Linked DNA regions of Homo sapiens: region 2 is linked to region 1. Evidence: fine-mapped expression QTL. Tissue or cell type: whole blood. Region 1 holds a variant in brackets; the other region holds the start of a gene. All regions are shown on one strand. Distances are from middle to middle.

Region 1 (2,500 bases):
CAACCCCTTGAAAACTTACTGCAGTTTACTTTTTCTGCTACACTCTAAGAAAGTAGAGCTAGCAAAAAAAAAAAAAAACCTTTTGGCCATCTTTACCCATCGCCCATGTAATCCCATATTTAATACACTGCAGCTCTCCCCAACACACACATTACTGTGTTGGCATAAATAAGACAAAAGGTAGAGCAATCTTACCTGACATTGATTAGATATTGAGCCAGGCTAATGCTGGCAGCAGATCCAGTGATGGTAACCTGCCTATCAGTAGATCCTTCCACTGGGTTCGCAATTTTGATCTGCGCCCCAGACATCTGACGGATCTCATTGATTTTGGCGCCTTGACGCCCGATTATGCAGCCAATCAACTTAAGGGAGAAAGAAAAACAAGGCACACCGAATTAGAGTTGCATGGCTAGGTCTAAGAATCCCACCCCCCCACCCCAAATCCTACGACTGTGGCCAGGCTGGAGTGCAGTGGCCTGATCTTGGCTCACTGTGCAACCTCAGCCTCCTGGATTTGAGCAATTCACCTGCCTCAGCAGGACTACAGGCGCATGCCACCATGCCCAGCCAATTTTTGTATTTTTAGTAGAGACGGGGTTTCACCATGTTGGCCAGGATGGTCTCAATCTCTTGACCTTGTGATCCACCCACCTTGGCCTCCCAAAGTGCTGGGATTACAGGTATAAGCCACCGAACCTGGCCCTTTAAAAAAAAAAAAAAAAACCGAGGGTCTCGCTATGTTGCTCAGGCTAGTCTCAAACTCCTTGGTTTAAGCCATTTTCGAATCTCAGCCTCTGTATCTCTGTGCTCCCTGTAACCTGGGATTACAGGTGTATACCGCCATGCCCAATTTCATCCTACACCCTTTACTCATACACTTTTGATCAAAAAACTCAACTCTTGACCCATTTTTCAGTCTGACCACCCATGGTGAGTGACAGCCAGTTCTGAGCCAACTCAGAACTGTCTTTTAGGTCCAAGAGACATAATACTCTTAGGTCCAAGTATTAGCTCTTCATTATTTCTGTCCTCAGAATATTACTTCCAAAGACAAAGCAGAGCCAAAACAAAAATAAATTTAGACAGCTAGAAATAGATAAAGGTAGAAATACATTCTGTTTCTGGCAGCAAATATGCTTAAAGTCATCCTGCCATGATTACCACCCTCCTATACCGACAAGAATTCTGGCCAATTCCTAAGGTGTTTTTGCCTTGGGAAAAGGTGGAAAAAAAAAAAAAAAAACTGGTTAACATTTGCACTAATACTGTAAAAAATATGACCCTGGACAGCACAGATCTGATGTTCATGAACCACTACACTATGGTGGGG[G/C]ACCGTGGCTCATGCCTGTAGGCTGAGGCAGGCCAATCACTTGCGTTCAGGAGTTTCATGGCGAAACTCTTGTCTTTACAAAAAAAATACAAAAAAAGTTAGCCAGGGATAGTGGCATGCACCTGTGGTCCCAGCTACTCAGGAGGCTGAGATGGGAGGATCTCTTAAGCCTGGAAGTTCAAGGCTGCAGTGAGCCACGATCATGCCTCTCTGCTCCAGCCTGGGCAACAGAGGGAGACCCTTTGTCAAAAAAAAAAGCCACTACACTTTTTTTTTTTTTTTTTTTTTTTTGAGAGACGGAGTCTTGGTCTGTTGCCCAGGCTGGAGTGCAGTGGCACGATCTTGGCTCACTGCAACCTCCGCCTCCCAGGTTCAGGGGATTCTCCTGCCTCAGCCTTCTGAGTAATGGGATTACAGGTGCGGGCCAGCACACCTGGCTAATTTTTGTATTTTTAGTAGAGACAGGGTTTCACCACTATGGTCAGGCTGGTCTCCTGACCTCGTGACCCACTTGCCTCAGCCTCCCACAAGTGCTGGGATTATATGCATGAGCCACTGCACCTGGCTGAAAACCACAACATCTTCTAAAGATAAGGCTTTAGCTTCTACAAAAAAACAAAAGCAGGCTGGACGCAGTGGCTCACACCTGTAATCCCAACGCTTTGGGAGGCTGAAGGGGGGGGATCACGTAAGGTCAGGAGTTCAAGACCAGCCTGACCAACATGGAGAAACCCCATCTCTAATTAAAAAAAATACAAAAATCAGCCGGACATGGTGGCACATGCCTGTAGTCCCATCTACTCGGGAGGCTGGGGCAGGAAAATTGCTTGAACCCAGGAGACGGAGGTCACAGTGAGCCAAGCCTGGGAAACAGAGCAAGATGCCGTCTCAAAAAAAAAAAAAAAAAAAGCAGCAAATGTACAGGAATTTCTTTCCTTTTTTGAAATGGAGTTTCGCTCTTGTTGCCCAGGCTGGAGTGCGATGGCGCGATCTCGGCTCACCACAACCTCCGCCTCCCGGGTTTCAAGCAATTCTCCTACCTTAGCCTCCCAAATAGCTGGGATTACAGAGATGCAACACCATGCCAGGCTTTTTGCTTTTTTTGTATTTTTAGTAGAGATGGGTTCCTCCATGGTAGTCAGGCTGGTCTCGAACTTCCAAGCTCAG
Region 2 (2,608 bases), 29 kb after region 1:
TAAAAATACAAAAAGTAGCCGGGCGTGATAGCATGCGTCTGTAATCTCAGCTACTCCAGAGGCTGAAACAGGAGAATCGCTTGAACCCAGGAGGCGGAGGTTGCAGTGAGCCTGGGCAACAGAGACTCCATCTCAAAAAATAAATAAATTAAATTAAATTAAAAAGCACTGGTCAGCTCTAGACTAAGGACTTTGCTTTTGCGGGTACAGCAGGTCGGGGGTAGGGGAGCTGATACAGAAACTTCCTGTTATAGAGCCCATCAGAAAAAGGGTTAGGGGTGGAACAGAACCCCCAAACACCTACCGGCATTGGGATTCCACATGTTTAGGTGTGTCCTCCAGCCTGAGGAGAAAGAAATGAGGCAAAAAAGATGACGGTCTAGAGGTAGGAAGTGGACTTAGCACCGGAGCCCAGCCCTAACGTCTTCCACCCCACAGTAGGCTCTCCTACCTGGAGAACTACCACAACTTCCACATAAGAAATGTCTCTTTTCTGGCTGGGCGCGGTGGCTCACGCCTGTAATCCCAGCACTTTGGGAGGCCGAGGCGGGTGGATCACGAGGTCAAGAGTTCGAGACCAGCCTGGCCAACATCGTGAAACCCCGTCTCTACTAAAAATCTAAAAATTAGCCGGGCGCGGTGGCGGGCACCTGTAATCCCAGTTATTCGGGAGGCTGAGTCAGGAAAATTGCTTGAACCCGGGAGGCAGAGGTTGCAGTGAGCCGAGACCGCGCCACTGCACTCTAGCCTGGGCGACGGAGCAAGACACCGTCTCAAAAAGAAAAGAAAAGAAAAGAAATGTCTCTTTCCACTTGTTTCTTCGCCCTCAATACCTACTTGGTTCCTAACACAGGAATCTAGTTCCCAGGGCCCCTCCACCCAGGTGGAAGCGTCTAACTCTTCGGAAGTAGGCAGTACCCGCGAGTCTCGGCCCCACCATCACTCATCTCCCTTTCCCTGGAACTGAGTACGGAGGCCTTTAACCACGCACAGAGTAAGAAAGGATCTCAAACAACTTTCTCTCTCCCTGGGGAGGACCCCACCTCAGGCTAAAAAAAGGATACGCCTCGAGGCGAAGTAAGAAGGAAGTTGCCCAAGAACCTCAAATACTTAAATATGTGGACACAGCCCCCTTCCTCCAAAAAAGAAAAAAGGCAAATGAAGATCCTAGCCCCAAGCTGCGAAGAGACTCTTGACCTAGCAAGGGGAAAAGGAAAAACCTATGGAATCCAGATACCCCATCACCTTTCCACCGCCGCCTGGGCTTGCTGCGTTCTCCTTCGCAGTCTCGGCTCTTCCTAGTCACCCAGACCCCGTGCTTCGGCACCCGCCTCTGCTACTGCCTAATTGGTAATTATGTGGCCGCTCGACTGATGATTAGACAACAAACTAATCAATCACTCTGGTCCGACTGAGGAGGAAACGGTTGCTCTAGGGGCGGAGCGGAGCCCTTTACGGCTAGGCCAGTACCGAGAAGCCGGAAATCTCCTGGGGGCGGGGCTAGGCGGAGAGCGCTGGAGGGGGCGGGGCCAGCTGCTGGGCAAAGTCCTAGAGACACCGAGAAGAAACTCTTCCCTTGCTCTCTTACCTCATGGTTCACTGGGTGCAATACCTTGTAAAATGAATACACTATGGTAAGTGTTGTAATACAGATATAGACAGAGTTCTCGGCAAGGGCAGAAGAGCTGCTGAGTCCCAGCCCCAAGCCTCAATGTTCCCGGCTCCGTCTTACACTCGCAAGGGAAGCAAACAAACATTCTTGCGGAAGATACAGAGATTTCATAATCTCTCCCAGGATTCCCTCTCTCAATTGCATAGCTCCGCCATCTGTCAAGTAGCCTAAACCAGAAACCAAGGAGGGCGTCCGTGATCCCTCTGCCTCCTTCACCTCCCTTACCCCAAATTATCAGTTTTGTCTCTCAAATATATCTGGAATCTCTCCACTTCTCTCTGTCTTCCCTGCTCCAAACCTCCCATCATCTGTCGCCTGGATTCATCTCTCCCCTGAATTGCTACAATGGCCTCCCTACAATGGCCTCCCTTTTTTTTTTTTTTTTTTTTTTTGAGACGGAGTCTCGCTCTGTCACGAGGCTGGAGTGCAGTGGTGCGACCTCGGCTCACTGCAACCTCCGCTTCCCGGGTTCAAGCGATAATCCTGCCTCAGCCTCCGAAGTAGCTGGGACTACAGACGCGGCTAATTTTTCTATTTTTTAGTAGAGATGGGATTTCACCATGTTGGCCAGGATGGTCTCGCTCTCTTGACTTCGTGATCTGCCCGCCTCGGCCTCCCAAAGTGCTGGGATTATAGGCGTGAGCCACCGTACCCAGCCTTTAAAAAAAAAAAAAAAATACAAGTGGCCGGGCGCAGTGGCTCACGCCTGTAATCCCAGCACTTTGGGAGGCCGAGGCAGGCGGATCACAAGGTCAGGAGTTCGAGACCAGCCTGGCCAATATGGTAAAACCCCGTTTCTACTAAAAATACAAAAATTAGCCGGGCGTGGTGACATGTGCCTGTAATCCCAGCCACTTGAGAGGCTGAGGCAGGAGAATCGCTTGAACCCGGGAGGTTGCAGTGAACCGAGATCACGCCATAGCACTCCAGCCTGGG

Evidence for each region. PIP is the estimated chance that this variant, and not a neighbour inherited with it, causes the effect.
Region 2: PRR13 starts here. The variant in region 1 is fine-mapped to the expression of PRR13 in whole blood (TOPMed, PIP above 0.99).

What each region holds. Positions count from the first base shown.
Region 1 is chr12:53,469,503-53,472,002 of GRCh38, reverse strand. It overlaps PCBP2 (poly(rC) binding protein 2), which reads right to left. Exons shown (of 15, transcript NM_031989.5): 14 at 196-365. Among named protein-coding and RNA genes, the nearest start is that of PCBP2-OT1, 6.3 kb to the right of the region's middle. The variant G/C (reference allele first, on the strand shown) is at 1,334.
Region 2 is chr12:53,440,430-53,443,037 of GRCh38, reverse strand. PRR13 (proline rich 13) reads right to left here and starts at 1,304. Exons shown (of 4, transcript NM_018457.4): 1 at 1,246-1,304; 2 at 305-343. The coding sequence starts at 323. RefSeq lists a silencer at 1,307-1,456 and enhancers at 1,747-1,836, 1,567-2,332.